2 separate regions of the Homo sapiens genome follow, and region 1 is linked to region 2. Evidence: fine-mapped expression QTL. Tissue or cell type: subcutaneous fat. Region 2 holds a variant in brackets; the other region holds the start of a gene. All regions are shown on one strand. Distances are between the middles of the regions.

The links. PIP is the estimated chance that this variant, and not a neighbour inherited with it, causes the effect.
Region 1: it holds the start of AK4, and the variant in region 2 is fine-mapped to the expression of AK4 in subcutaneous fat (FUSION, PIP 0.95).

Annotation. Positions count from the first base shown.
Region 1 is chr1:65,143,654-65,151,770 of GRCh38, forward strand. AK4 (adenylate kinase 4) reads left to right here and starts at 4,550. Exons shown (of 5, transcript NM_013410.4): 1 at 4,550-4,899. The coding sequence starts at 4,755. RefSeq lists silencers at 3,717-3,956, 3,967-4,466, 4,847-5,146, 5,207-5,486 and enhancers at 5,080-5,798, 5,799-6,517, 8,108-8,117.
Region 2 is chr1:65,064,700-65,072,816 of GRCh38, forward strand. It overlaps a transcript of JAK1 not described here. Among named protein-coding and RNA genes, the nearest start is that of MIR101-1, 10 kb to the left of the region's middle. RefSeq lists a silencer at 2,176-2,775. The variant GT/G (reference allele first, on the strand shown) is at 4,016.

The DNA of each region.
Region 1 (8,117 bases), 79 kb after region 2:
GATGGGGTTTCACCATGTTGGCCAAGCTGGTTTTAAACTCCGGACCTCCATCCGCCTTGGCCTCTCAAAGCGCTGAGATTACAGGAATGAGCCACTGCACTCAGCCTCAGATCAATTATTTAAACAAACTCAGTCAATATAAAAAAAATTAAAAAAACATGATAAGCAAATAACAGCCAAGGTGGTACAATGTTATGGCAAAACTGTAAAAATAGTGTGGAAATAATTGAAGTTTAGAGGAACAAGAGCACTGTGCTCAGAATGAGGAAATCTGATTTGAGGTCCGGCTCCCTTTGTACTATCGTCCCAGGCAGGCAATGCTGCATGGTACTGAGTGTGTTATGAGGGATAGAGACTTGCCAACATTAACAGATTATTACAAAGGGTATATGTTTGAGTACAGAAACCTCAGACTTTATAGTGTTAGAGGGGAGACAAAAACATAAATAGTTGTGTAATAACTCAAAGACTGTGATAAGTATTACAAATGGGTTAAAAACCCTAGACAAAGGAAATAGGAAGAAGTTAATTACCTGAGTGTATGTATATGATAAGAATGGCTATCATTAGGCTGGGCACGGTGGCTCACACCTGTAATCCCAGCACTTTGGGAGGCCGAGGCGGGCGGATCACAAGGTCAGGAGATCGAGACCATCCTGGCTAACACGGTGAAACCCCGTCTCTACTAAAAAAATACAAAAGATTAGCCAGGCGTGGTGGCAGGTGCCTGTAGTCCCAGCTACTCAAGAGGCTGAGGCAGGAGAATGGCGTGAACCCAGGAGGCGGAGCTTGCAGTGAGCTGAGATCGTGCCACTGTATTCCAGCCTGGGCGACAGAGCAAGACTCCATCTCAAAAAAAAAAAAAAAAAAAAAGTGCCAGGGAACTGACTAGGTGCTTTGTTGTATTATCTCATTTATTTCTCACCATTCAGGAACTGGGTTTAGAGAGGCTAAATAATTGACCCATGATTAATACTGGTGATGATGATGTTTACGACTGAATACTTATTGTATGCCCAGCCCTGTACTGAGTCCTTTATATACATGATCTCCATTTAAGCTTCACCACAAGACTCTGAGGTATTATTTTCCTTTTACAGATAAACTAAGGCTCACAGAGATCATGAAATTTGCAGTTAGTGAATGGTGCTGTTGCAATTTGATCTCAGGTGTGTTGGACTCCAAAGTCTGTTTCTTCATCTTCTGCTTCACTTCCAAGTCAGCAGCAGCTGAGCTGAGGGACCATGAGATGGCCATGCACTGGGATGGTCCATTGAGGGCTCTTTTGTGAAATGCGAGGTTCCAATCTTGGTTTCTCTAATGTGTGTCACAACTCTTTGTTTAATAATTTATACTCCTAAAAGCATAAAGTCCTAGAATCATGTGGGTGGCTAGCACTGTTCCATGACACTATAAGGTAATGTTGGTAAAGACATTTCAAAAGTAGACAAAAGAACTAGGTGGTAGGGTAAGGTAGGGCTATAGGATAGCTAGTCTGTGCGGGCTAAAAGCCATATTTCCTGTGGAAAGTTACAGTCAATTCTTAATAGATATGAAGGAATCTTCAGGATGTACTAAATCCAACCTCCTCATTTTACAAAGTAGAGGTTAAGGGCCAAAGGTCATACATTGGCAGAGGAATCAGGACACCACACATCTTGTGTCTCAATGCTCTGTTCACTATGGCAGTGGTTTTCAAGGTGTGGTCTCCAGATCAGCAACCTCAGCATCACCTGGGAACTTGATGGAAATGCCCACCTTCAATCCACTGAATCAGATTCTGTGTGTCAGGCCTCTAGCCCAAGCTAAGCCATCATATCCCCTGTGACCTGCACGTATACATCCAGATGGCCTGAAGCAACTGAAGATCCACAAAAGTGAAAATAGCCTTAACTGATGACATTCCACCACTGTGATTTGTTTCTGCCCCACCCTAACTGATCAATGTACTTTGTAATTCTCCTTACCCTTGAGAATGTACTTTGTGAGATCCACCCGCTGCCCGCAAAACACTGCTCCTAACTCCACCGCCTATCCGAAAATCTATAAGAACTAATGATAATCCCACCACCCTTTCCTGACTCTCTTTTCGGACTCAGCCCGCCGGCACCCAGGTAAAATAAACAGCCTTATTGCTCACACAAAGCCTGTTTGGTGGTCTCTTCACATGGACGTGCGTGGCACTATGCAGGGGGAGCTCAGCAACACGTTTCAACATGCCTTCCAGGTGATTCTGATGCATGCTCACTTCTGAGAGCCACTCCAAAGAAGTATCTGCTACATATTATACACATATACCCCCACCCCCAGACCCGCAAGTTCTTCCTCTTTGTTCCCAGAAAAGGTTTGAAGGGGCTCAGTATCAGGTCTACAGCACACTGAGATTTATTTATTTATTTATTTATTTATCATTTATTTGAGACAGAGTCTCGCCCTGTTTCCGAGGCTGGAGTGCAGTGGCGTGATCTCAGCTCACTGCAACCTCCACCTCCCAGGTTCAAGTGATTCTCTTGCCTCAGCCTCTGGAGTAGTTGGGATTACAGGCGTGCACCACCACACCTGGCTAATCATTCTATTTTTAGTAGAGACGGAGTTTCACCATGTTAGACAGGCTGGTCTCATACTCCTGGCCTCAAGTGATCCGTCTGCCTTGGCCTCCCAAAGTGCTGGGATTACGGGTGTGAGCCACAGCGCCCGGCCACACTGAGACATTTTAGAGGGAGATCAGTCTATGGAACAAATGCTGGCCTGGGGCTGGTGGCCTGGGTGTGCTGTCTGGCCAATTTTGTGCGTGGAGTAAGCAGTGGGGAGAGGCGCTGGGTGTCAGGAAACTATGCCAGGCCCTGCCCTCCACCAACCCCAATCAAAGAGCTGAGAGGGGGTTCTTCTCCACACCATCCCACTACTTGTGTCCCTCACCTTCTCTGAGTCCTGGGTATTGGTGCTGGGAACTCTGCAACAGATTTCCTGAAGGCAGGTGGCCTGTGGAAGGAAGGCAGAGGAGGGGGCCTGCAGAATGCAAAGGTGTACGGAAGGCATCTCTGCGCCCCTGCTGAAGATTTTTCACTTTATCCTGAAGGGAAGACAATATCTGAGGCCGGGAAATAATAAATATTGATTTTCACTTTATCAGTATTCCTGGCAGCTGCACGGAAAATGGAATGGCACAGAAACTGGAGTCTTATGGGCACTTATCCCACTAGTTGGGGTGGGAAATTAAAGGCTGTGTGTAAGGTGGGCACAGATCTAACAGAATGTGGATTGGGATATGCAGGGGAGGGTGGAGTGGGGGAAGACAGACTCCATTTGGACTTGGTGAGTTATAGGTGCAGCACCAGCATAATGCGCATGGAAGTCCTGGAATCATTTACCAAGAAGGTCCTGAACACAGGTGAGGGACATCCCCTTCTTCCCTGTTCCCTAAGGCGCCTAGACTTTGGAGTCAGTCAGTCTTGGGTTCCAGCCTCCCGCTAGGACGCAATTTCTTGAGAGCAGGATTCGATCTGTTGTTCACGGCTAGATCCTAAGCGCCTAGAATAGTTTCTGGCACACAGTAGGCACTCAATAAACATTTGCAGAATGAATCAATGAATGAATGGTCACGCTCCATTCCTCGGCTGTAAACACAATGAAATCACCTAGCCGCAAACTTGGCGCACAGTAGGCGCTCAACAAGTTGTATTTTTCCCTTCCCTTGCAGTAGACCGCGGTCCCCAGGCGACCGCGAAAGAAAAAAAGGGGTTTCTCTACCTCGCGTGGTCTGCACCTCGCTTCGCCCCCGCAGCCCTCGCTGGGTCGCAGGGAGCACGTGGGCCAGGCAGGCTGGGTGGGAGTGGAGTGGAGTGGAGGGGAGGGGGCGGCGGCCAGCGGCTCGCGCGGAGCCGGTCTCCCGGGCTTACGTAAGGCGCGAGTCCCGCGCGGCCGGCCGGGGCTCCGCGACTGGGCGGGCGGAGGCGGCGCCGCCCTGCAGGATCCGGGCTGGAAGCCTCTCGGAGTGCTGCCTCCAGCCAAGGTGTGTGTTTATTTGATTGCTTTTGGTGGCGAGGCGCGGGGCTCGGGCTCGTCGCGCGCCCCATGGCCGGGGAGCGCATCCGCCAACCCCGGGCGGAGGTGGGCCCCTCCGAGCGCGCGCGGGCGGCGGGCAGCGGCGGCAGCTGAGACTCCGGGGGATGTGACAGCCGCCGGGGAGGGGACGAGACGCAGACCACACGTTGCCCACGTGCGAGGACCGGGCAGGGGCTCAGCCCCTAGGCCGCCCGGTGCGTGGGGCGGCGGGGGCTGGCTTTGAGTCACCCCCGCTTGTGCCAGCTTCCCCGGCTCGGCGGAGACTGGCTTGGGGATGCCTGGCCGCCCGGCCCCCTTCTCGGACGCGGCGTGGGGAGCGAGCTGGAGTTAAGGATGAAGGTGGGACTGGCCGGGCCGACCTCTGACCCCTGGAGGCCGAGTCGGCAGGGCGGGGCACGGCGCGCTTCAGCAGCTTTGCGTGGGGGCGAGGAGGTGGAGGAGGGCGAGGAGGTGGAGAAGGGCGGGGAGGTGTAGCGTGGCGCTCAGTCCGCCTGCTACTCGGTCCCGGCGCTGGGCTGAGGGGAGGGGTTGTCTTAAAAGTCTCTCCTTCCCCCTGTAGGGGCGGCCGGCGAGTCCCAGTGAGAGCGGAGGGTGCCAGAGGTAGGGGGCCGAGAAACAAAGTTCCCGGGGCTTCCTCCGGGGCCGCGGTCGGGGCTGCGCGTTTGACCGCCCCCCTCCTCGCGAAGGCAATGGCTTCCAAACTCCTGCGCGCGGTCATCCTCGGGCCGCCCGGCTCGGGCAAGGGCACCGTGTGCCAGAGGATCGCCCAGAACTTTGGTCTCCAGCATCTCTCCAGCGGCCACTTCTTGCGGGAGAACATCAAGGCCAGCACCGGTGAGGGGCTGCGGGGACGAGGGCCGGGGGCGAGCCGCGTTGGGCTGGGGTGAGGCCCTGGAGGGACTGGGGCTCCCGGATCACGGCGCCCTTCCCCCGCCCGCGTGTGGTCGTGCAGGCTCGTACGTGCCGGGGCGCATGCAGCTGGCGGCCGCGCGGCTTAACCGCGCCTGGGGAGGAGGCCGAGGCTCCAGGGGCGGCCGGTGGGAGGTGCCCACGGCTCCTCTCCACCGCTCCTCCTGTCGCGAGGAATAGCCCGAGCCACCCGGCCGAGGGAACGAGAACTAGGCAGGGAAAACCCGGAGCTTCCGTCTCACGCTGCCCTCCTTAAGGCAGAGCCGTCCCCGTACCCCTTAGCCCTGGCCCCCTCCCCCGAGTCCCTAGAGAGCCGCGCGCCCCCTCCCGCGGGAGCCCAGAGGCGGAGCGCCGCCCACCTGTGGCAGTCGGGCGGGGCCGCGCGCCGGGGAACCTGTGGCGCCGGGGGGCTCGCAGCCTCGCGCCTCTCCAGCCCCTCCACGCAGCCTCGGGCCTCGGGGCAGAGCCCTGGGTGGCTTTGAAAGGCCTGTCTGTTCGTTGTCGCCTTCTAAGGTAAACTCTCCCCAGCAACTCCCCCCCCTCCCGAAGCCGCCGGGCCTGGCCGTCAGGAGACTCGGAGGAGACTCGTTCTGATAAATTACATTTTGTAATGCAGCTTTCCTGGAAATGGCTTCTTGAGCTGCCTCCCTTGGCATGAGATGCCTCCTTTGGCTGGCGTGGTGAACTTGGGGATATATAGATCGCCTGATTTCTTAGTCTGACGGGGTTGAGTGCGTCCCTTTCCCCCTCTCCTCCCACTCCACGTTCACACCAGTTCCGAAAGAATTGGCGTTAAAAGGCGAGAGGTAGCGGTTGTGCTGCTGCGAGGCTCTTAACCCTTCTGGGATGGAGATGCTGGTAATTAGCAACTCCTTTATGAAAAGTTGTTCTTCCCAGCAGGGGTCCTTTACTGTCGATGTACTTCTCAAGGATGTCCGGGCTGGTTATTGCCCATCATGGACTAATTATCCGGAGATCTGCATTTCAGAAGCACAGACTGGCTTGAAAAGGAAGGTGGAGGACAGTACCAGAAAACAAAAGGAAAGCTTAAAAGCAAGGAATTAAGAAGTATCTCCAGAATTGTATTCCTTATCTCTTAAGCAGATTGAAAAAGCGGACTTTTACAGGAAACTCTTCCCCCACCCCCATGTCTCAAAAGGAAGAATTATGTGTACCAGATTGCACTTGAGTTTTCTGTTGTGGGTATTGTTACCTCAAGTGCGCCTATTTTGATTTTAATACATTCACATGCATTTTATTCTTGAAATGCTGCGGTTTGAGGGGAGAGCGGCCTGAGGGGGAAGGCTGGCTCTCATCCTAATGGTTTTGTGTTTAGGTTGGGCTTCTTCATGGTAGGGGCATGGAGTCAGTGAAGGAAGACAGTGAGAAGAGATGAGCCCATTCCATAATTCTCTGTACCTGACTAGGAGACTTGTTTCCTTCTATGAGCCCATTCCATAATTCTCTGTACCTTACTTGGTGACTTGTTTCCTTCTGGAATGAAGGGCTTCACACTGTCCATCCTGGGACTGGACTCATAGCCCTTTCCATGTTTAAAGAGAGTGTGATGGGAAGTAGCTTATTTCTGCACTTTCTTAGGGGCTTTGAAAATTTTCCATTTGCTCTTTTCCCTTGTTCTCTCTTTCTCTCTCTCTCTCTTTTTTTTTTTTAACTTTCCTGTGTTCTAAATTTTAGTTTTCATTCTCTTTCAAATGCCTTCATTTCCTCCCCAGTGATCCTCCCTGGAGTGAGAAATGACTATGAAATGTTTAGATTTTCTTTTTTCTGTTGGGAATCAAGCAGCTTTTTGCATGAGCCAATTAAAAAAAAAACTTTATCAAAGAAAGAAGAAAAATAAAGGACAGCAATTTGTTTTGAAAGTGGCTTGTTTCTAGTGAACTTTCGGGTTATCGGATTATTTTTCCCTCTCAGAAGGTCTGAGAATCTTATAGGCTTACTGCCTGGTAAATAAAACATTCCTTTCCACGGTATTTATTTTTCTGTCTGTTACCTGCTGTTTGCTTTTAGCTGATTTCCTGGTGGGAAACACAACCACCCTTCTGTATGTACCCTTTATAATGGAAGGTTTGAAGGAGACGATGAAGCACAACAAAAACCCAGGAAATAGAACCGTGTAGGAATTTGAATTGGAAAGTAGCTCCGGCCATCTGCTCCAGCCTGGATTTGGGCACACTCTTGTCTACATGGCTTTCCTCCTCCTGCAGCCTGGTGAAAAGCTGCTCTTTCAGGAAAGGGCCATTCTGATGTCATTGCTTCTTGGAAGTCTTCCCTCACCTGCTCTGGCAGAATTCATCTCTTTCCTCTGCACATAACTTTTTTTTTTTGAGACGAGTCTCGTTCTGTCACCCACACCGGAGTTCAGTGGCGCTATCTCGGCTCGCTGCAACCTCTGCCTCCCGGGTTCAAGCGATTCTCTTGCTTCAGCCTCCCAAGTAGCTGGGATTACAGGCGTCTGCCACCACGCCCGGCTAATTTTTGTATTTTTCGTAGAGATAGGGTTTCACCATCTCTACGAAGGTTCGAGGTCAGGCTGGTCGCGAACTCGGGACCTTAGATGATCCACCCGTCTTGGCCTCCCAAAGTGCTGGGATTACAAATGTGAGCCACCGCACCTGACCTCCTCTCCTCTGCACATGTCTTATTGATTCTAATGTTGCAGTCATATATCATGCAGTGTAAAAATGCCTGTCTCACACCCAGTAAGATATCTGCTGAGTGGCTGCTGTGCGTCAATGTTCTAGGTGCTGGGGGCAATAGCATTAAGATAATCTTGTGCCTCTTTTATTATTATTTATAGATAGGGGTTTTGCTTTAGTGCCCAGGCTGGTCTCAAACTCTTGGCTCAGTCTCCCAAAATGTTGGGATTACAGGTGTGAGCCACTGCACCTGGCCCATTCTTGGGCCTTTTGTTCTTTCTGCCTATACCATTGTACAATTTCCACTCTGAAACTTGGAGGACAGGGATCAGGCAAAGTACCTAATGTATAAAAGGAGCTTACCGAGTCTGTATTAAAGGCCTGGGTCACAAATTCTAGACAGTACATCTTAGTCCAGAAGTCAAGCAACCTATAGCATAGAGACCATTTTGTTTAATTAGCTCTGATTTATGGTAAAAGTTTGTG
Region 2 (8,117 bases):
TATTGTTTATGAGCCTCTCAACTTACATACTCACAGCAGCTGTCACTGCATCCTCAGGTTCTCTGTCTTCAAGTGCCCTCCTAGCTTCCTGAAACAACCTTCTCTATCTAGAGCAGATTCTGCAGAGAGGCCCCTCTTTAATTCATATTCTGAAACGTGCTTGTTATTGTTGACGTACAAAAACTTATGAATAATTCAATAAATGAATCTTGAACCATCCTATTTATCATTCAGTGGTCTAGGTACCCAACTCTAGAGGAAAGCTTTTCTGAAATACACGGTAAGTATCCCCCAACCCTCCCTCAAAGGAACCAATTATGAACACTATACAGTCTTCTCTCCCTTCTCACTCCCCATGTCAAAGTTCATTGTGTTCCTCCTGCAGCTGATTTAAAAGTTGATCTTTTCAAGGAGCTGGATTCCTAAGGTAGTTCTATTTTGAGCCTTCTTCCTGTTCTGAAGCTAAAGTTGGAAGGGCTTAGGTGGTGATGTCATGGAAGGGAGACTGTTGGTTTTTATAGGAGGGTCTTCTCTGGCAACTCTGGGGATGCTCAAATGGGGAAAACTCAGAGTGTTACTTTTGATCTTTTCCCCCCTCCTTCCCTTTATAGAATATCAGCTATTCCTTAGCCAGCAAGAAAACAAGTTCAAATAAGCCTGCAAACAGATTTACATATTTTACATGCTAAACATCTAATAAATGAAAAGACTGAGAAAAAGAAAAATGCCTCACTGTAAGGAACAGAGGGTGACAACCTCTTTCTCCACCCCTCTCCCCAAATATCTATCACAGAACAAGGGGCAAAGAGGAGGGGAGGGTCGACTGGTAAGCAGAATAAAGGGATTATAAAGCTAGGAGGCTTTTAGAGGGAAACGCTGTTGGAATATTCAGGACAGGAGACCCTTGGGTCCCTGCTCTTCCTCTGTGTTTTCCTCCCTTTTGGAATGGTTAGACTTGGGCTGGGTGTGTCTTCTGCTTGGGAGGCGTTTTTTTTGGCGCTGGAAAAGCAAAAGGGGCCAGGGTGGGGCCTGGGGAAAGAAAGCCAGAGACAGGCTGCTTAGGCCTGGCTCTGGGTTAAGCTTAAGGGGAAAATAAAGGGGGCTACGGAGGGACAGCAGATTCCATTAGAAGACCCAGAGGGGAATAAAAAACAGCGCACTGGCCAAAGGGGGTCACTTCTCTCTCTCCCTCAACCTAGGCCCAGGAGCTATTTGCTGGTTGGTGGGGGACAGGTCCAGAGGGAAGAGAAAATCCCAAAACATCTGCAGATCACAACTTGCCGGGGGAAAGGGGGGCTGGGGACAGACATGCCAAATTAAATCAGCAGGTGAAAGCAGCAATTTTTGGCCAATGCTGGGATTGCGGAGAGGACTAACTAAGAACCCTGGAGAGCAGGGGATTCCCTGGTTTCTCAGCTCACCTCTCCTTCAAAGCAGGGATAAGCACAGGTGTGGTCTTTCTCCAGGAAGGTGGCAGCTGGCGTGCGGGTAGCAGAGTGAGGGAAAGAATTCCTCGCACAGGAAGGCAGGGAGAAGCCCTGGGGTCAGCTGCGGCCAGGAGCCGGCGTCTCCGCCAAGTCCCCTCCCCCTTCCTGAAAACCGACCTGGACCAGCACAAATTACAGCAAAGCACCCCTCTCCCCAATAATGTTTCTAATAAAAGAAACAGACTCTCATGCCTATATTAAAAAACCACGAGCTCTAGCTGATGGAAATAAACAGGTGAGCCCGGGGAGAAGCGGGAAAACACTGGGAATGGGAGAATGAAGGGGGAGAAGGCGTTCCCGAACGTGCAGAGAAACCGAGGCTTCCCCGCCCTCCCTCCACCCTCCTCCCCTCCGGCCGGGGAGAATCTGCGTGGCAGGGTGCAAGCTAAAAATGCCACTGACGGACCCCTCTTCCCGCCCCGTGCCCGTTCTCCCTCCTACCCCAGACTCCAGCGTCCCGGCCTCGTGGTAGCGCCCGGTCCCCGGCGCCGCGCGGGGCTCGCCCTCTCTCCGGACCGCCGCCGCCGCGGGGACTCCGGTCTTCCTCTCTTCTCCCTCCCTCCTCCTCCTCCTCCGGCACCGCCGCCTCCTCCTCTTAGACTCCTCCCGCCGGATCCTTCATGTAAACAACATCCAGGCTCTATTTACAGTCGCCGCCGGACGGCAAGGGACCCACGCCAGCACCCTGGACGCGGGCGGGGGCGGGGGAAAAGCGAGTGCGCAACATTTACACACACACCCCGCCCCTCCGCGCCGCTCCCCTCCGGGGGCCGAGCCAGGCGCCCGGGGCTCCCCGCGTTGCCACTGACACCCCAGCGAGGGCCGCGCAAAACCGCGGAAATGCCCATGGGCGAGGTCGCCCCGCTACCCCTCGGGAAAAACACACGCACGCGCTAACAACAACAAACCCAGTCCGGCAACACCCTCGCAGTCGGTCCCGGAGTGCGGAGGCCCGGCCCGGCCCGCCCCGCGCCGCCGCCCCCGCGCTCCGCCGCCTACCCCGAGGTGGCGAACTGCGTGCGGTCCCCGGAGGAGGCTGAAGGCAGGCGCTAGGCGCTGGGCAGTGGCGCGCCCTCGGCCCCCGGCGCCGCCTGGCCCGCCCCCAGACCCCAGTGCGGATGCCTAGCGGGCCGAGCCCCACGGCTGCGTGTGCGTGTGCGCCGCGGCCAGCCTCGCCGGAGCCGCTCTGTGCGCCCCACGGCTTCCCGCGTCCCCAGGCCGGCTCCGACGCGCCGCGAGACGGGGCCGGGAGCGCAGCAGCCAGCGCTCCACGGCGGCGCACGGGCGCGCACTCGGACGTCCACACTCTGCGCCCCGAGCCTCGCGCGGCCGCACGCCCCACGCAGCCCGCCTCCCGCGGGCGCTCGGCCCCGCGCGCCCCGCCGCCCCCGCGCCCGGCCGCCGCCCCCACACCCACCTGCGCCCCCGGGGGTCCCGGGCTCCCCTTCCTTTGTTCTTCCCGCTATTTGCATGAGGATTATCTAATGACGCAGCAAGGCTCGCCACAACGTGACCGTCGCCATTTTTCTGTTTTTATTCTATCTCTGCCATGTGATAGATGGCGGGGGGGTTGGAAAAGGGAGAGAGACGGGATTAAAAAAAAAAAAAAAAAAAACTTCCGGGTCTCATGACCGGGAAGGGAGAAAAACAAAAGGGAGACGAGACACAACTCTAAGGGAAGGATGTGTGTGCGTGCGTGTGTGTATGAGAGTGTGTGTACGTGCGCGCGCTCTCCCTCCTCTGCTGGGAGAAAGGAGGCTCCGGCAGCGGACAGGCAGCAGCCATCCTCCCACCCTGGAGACCAGTGGCCCCGGTGGGTCCAGCTCGCACCCTCTGATTGTGGCGGTCGCCCGTCCTGGTCCCCCACGCGCCGCGGAAGCTGGGGGAGCTGTCAGCCTGCTCCCCTCCTCTGGCTGCCTTCACTCGCCTGTCCGCCCCAGAGCTCGCTTTCCCTCCCGGGCGGCTGTACCGTTGTGGGCTACGTTCAGAGAAGTCCCACTATTGCCATGAGCAGGGACATAATAGAGTTTAAAGGCCGCCGTATTTTCTAAGTTTTAAAACAGTTTGCTTCGACGCCGTTGTTTATGACAACCGCGTGGCAACACCAGGCACAATCTAATGTTGGTTCCAATCCTTCCCCTCTTTCTCTACCCCCGCTTTCCCCCTTTTCCCAAAGTGGGGCACAACTTGGTGTGGTCTTCAATGGGGATTGGTTTTGTGGGGATGGACCATTCACTACGGATTGATTGATTTAAGAACCGCTTATTTAAATAAGTGGTGTTCAGGGTCAGAGGATTGTTTCAGAAGACAGTTGCATAGAGCAAGGTGGATTCGTGTTACACTGATCTTATTCACATTCAAAGGGAGTGATAGACATTTCATTCTTTCCGAAGTTCACAGTTGCTGAAAAAAAAATATTTGGGAACTCTGCCACTGTTTTCCGGTGAGATATAGAATTTTGTACTCTTGTTTACTACTGGGTTCCCTTCAGGCACTTTCACTTTTGTTTTTCGTGAGTTTCCTTTCTG[GT/G]TTTTTTTTTTTTCCTCTATTTCTTAATTCAGAGCAGAAATGGACTTCATAGTTGAGCAGGGTTCCTGGCTTTTACAGGGAGAGAAACGGAGACTCTGAGTAGTGCTAGGAGTTGCTCTAGGGCACACATTTAATTAGAGCCCAGCTTGGATTGCGCCCTGCTCACCTGTCGTTTCTCTTAGGGGTTGGCTATAAGAGGATGGGGTGGGGACGGGACTCACGGAACATCGCTATGTGCTTATTGTGAATTATTTTTATTAGACTCACAGAGTTGACCACTCTCCCCTTTGTGCATCCACTGTATGGTTTTTACATTTATTTTCTGGTGCCTTTCACAGATCAGCGTACGGCACAGTTGCTGTATCTCCCACTAGGGTAAGCTTTGAGGCCAGGGCCATGCCATACTCATTTTATATCTCCCATATTTAGCACCATGACTAGCAATGAATGAGCAAATGAAGGCCTGAAGAGGATCTTTTCCATAATTCCATCCTAGGAAATTCCTTGCATGTTTCTGGTGAAGGTAGAACACTGGAGATGCTTTTTGATTCTTACACCTCTGCAGACCATTTTTGGCAGTCTTCTTTAGTTACAAAGCCAGGCAAAACATGTTTTGCTTTTCTCAATTTTTTAAATCAACTGCTTCCCCCCTCGCCCCGCCCCGCCCCTCGTTTTACCATATTTGGTTCCTCTTCTTTAAATTCTTTCTGATTCATATGAATAAATTAGTTATGCCAACCTTTGCACTTTGTGAGTTGCTTTTGCTTTTAGACTCCAAAAGTTTGATAAAGTTTAAGGTGTGATTTAACCTGGTGCAGACTGGAAGCAAATCATCATGGGCAGACAAGACTCTGATTCTTCCTGGGATCACTGAACTGGGAGACTGGCGGTTGAGCAGGCAAAAGAGGACTGTTGAAAAGATGTTAGCATCAGGCAAAAAGTACACGTTTACCAAAAACAACAACGACAACAAAACAAACAAAAAACAGAATAACTGCCGTATACAATTACAGCTCAGAGGAGGATCTGGATTGTCACAGATCAGTTCTTATACATCTGGACTGATAAGGTTCCATTGCATATCTGAACATGATCTACATGTATTCCTCTGGATGGGGTAAATGAAATTGGTATGAATGATTGTAACATCTACAACCCATATGTTTAATCCTTGATAACAACAGTGTGATAGTAATTTAAGTATATCATCAGTTTGCAGTCAAGGTGGAGATGAAGTCTAATTATATATGTAAAGTCATTTGTTCTTTTGAATACAAAACTGAACAGAAAAAAAAAGAACATGGCTCAAAACATATAGTTATAATAAATACCTCCATACCTCTTGTTTTACACACATGTGCACTCACACATTTTTAAAAAATCAAACTTTAGTCTTCTGAGGTACCATGTAGTGGCTGATTAAAGGAAGTTCTTATAAGCACCTCACCAGTCTTCCTCTCTCCAATATGTACTTGAAAATGACAATTCCTGGAGTCATGGTGAGAGCACAGACTTTGGAGTCTGGTACTAATCTCAGCTCTGCCAATTTGTTAACTGTGTCAGTCTGGGCAAGTTATTTATCAGTTGCGATTCTTAGTTTCTTTACCCATAATATGAGCATTATAACAGCTAGCTCAAGAGTTTTTAGAATTGAAGTGTAATCAAAATGTATTAAGACATATGTAAAGCACCTAGCATGATACTCGGAAAATAATCTTCAATAAAGGGTCATTATAATAATTTTTAAACTGCATTTTATTTACCCCATGCACTTCCCAGAATTATTCTTTCCCTTTTGGCTGCCTGACCTTGGAAATTCAATAAACCTACTATTAATGAAAGTTCTGTGACTATGAAGATAAATCAGAATAGTTCCTGGCCTCAAAAAGTTCACACTTCAGCTTTGGAAGAGATACAGATACAAGGAACTAGACTGATACTGGTAACCGAAAGAGAAGACCACTTTGTACCAGTTTATGATGATCTACCTGAGCTGTATTTAATTAAGATTGGGTTTTTTTTAAAGATTTACTAGTATCGACACAATGATAAAGCTTGTGGAAGCAGGAAAATTCAAGAAAAAAAATCTCACATTTTCACATAAATGAGGAATACTATCTTTAAAACTCCATCTAGTCAGTATAATTCCTCAGCTTTAAGAAACAATTTTCTGATCCATTATAAGAGGCAAGCTTCTTTTGCGTTCATGTGAAAAATATGCCAGGTTGTACCTTTGAAGTAATGTTGGAGAAATGTAGTTAATAGGAAGCACTTCTGGTTGTTAATTAATTAAACCACTTTAATCAAGAACTATTTTCTGAGAAACTTATTCCCAGCCCTGGGTGGGGTGCTAAAGAAACAAAGATGATGAAGATAACAGACTTTGCCCTTATGGAACTCATCATCTAAGAATCAAATGTTTATTGATTACCTACAGGGGATGCAATAGTGAAAGAGATACTGAGCTTAGTCTATTGAGAGATTGATATATACACATATCTTTCTAGCTTCCTCAAGAAGTATGTGATTGACACAGGATTTGGGCAAGACACTCAGTATATATATGTGTGTTTATATATATATATATATATTTTTTTTTTTTTTTTTTTTTTTTTTTTGAGATGGAGTCTCGCTCTGTCAGCCAGGCTGGAGTGCAGTGGCGCGATCTTGGCTCACTGCAAGCTCTGCCTCCTGGGTTCACGCCATTCTCCTGCCTCAGCCTCCCGAGTAGCTGGGACTATAGGCGTCCACCACCACACCCAGCTAATTGTTTGTATTTTTAGTAGAGACGGGGTTTCACCGTGTTAGCCAGGATAGTCTTGATCTCCTGACCTCGTGAATCTGCCTGCCTTGGCCTCCCAAAGTGCTGGGATCACAGGCGTGAGCCACCGCACCCGGCCTGACACTATATTATGTATATATAAATATATTCGGCCGGGCGCGGTGGCTCACGCCTGTAATCCCAGCACTTTGGGAGGCCGAGGTGGGCGGATCACGAGGTCAGGAGATCGAGACCATCCTGGCTAACATGGTGAAACCCCGTCTCTACTGAAAATACAAAAAAAAAAATTAGCCGGGCATGGTAGCGGCTGCCTGTAGTCCCAGCTACTCGGGAGGCTGAGGCAGGAGAATGGCGTGAACCCGGGAGGCGGAGCTTGCGGTGAGCCGAGATCGCGCCACTGTACTCCAGCCTGGGCAACAGAGCGAGACTCCGTCTCAAAAATAAATAAATAAATAAATATATTCTACGCTCCACCAGAGCTTTTTTTTGTTCCTTAAAACAAAGAGTAGGCTGGGCGCAGTGGCTCACACCTGTAATCCCAGCATTTTGGGAGGCCGAGGCAGGTGGATCACGAGGTCAAGAGACCATCCTGGCCAACATGGTGAAACCCCGTCTCTACTTAAAAAAAAAAAATTAGCTGGGCGTGGTGGCATGTGCCTGTAGTACCAGCTACTCAGGAGGCTGAGGCAGGAGAATCGCTTGAACCCAGGAGGTGGAGGTTGCAGTGAGCCGAGATCACGCCACTGCAATCCAGCCTGGCGACAGAGCAAGACTCCATCTCAAATAAAACAAAAACAAAGAGTAGCTCTTGAAAGAATAGTTGGTCTCTGTAGCCCAAGTGAACCTGGAAACCTGGGAGCCTTGCTAGCTTTAGGCAGAACTGTGAAGTGGGTTAAGTTATTTTCAATTTCCCTCAAATCTGAACTATTGAAATAGCTTTCTGGTCTCTCAGTTCCTGTCCTTCTGAACTCTGTTTTGTTTTCCACAGGCTACTACAGTGATTCTAAAATGCAAACCCTGTTACACTGTTCCCCTGCTTAAAAAACTTTCCTGGCTCCCCATTATCTGCCAAGCATGACACACAAGACCCTTTGTGATCTTGCTCTGCCAAGCCTTCCAGCCTCATCCTCCATCACACCCACAGGAAGAGTTGCCAGATTTATTAAATAAAAATATGAGACGCATAGTTAAATATAAATTGCAGATAAACAATAACTTTTTGGCATAAACACGTCCCAAATATTGCATGACACATACTTAATACTAAAACATTTCCATTGTTTATCTGAAATCCAAATTTCAGTAGGCATCCTGTGTTT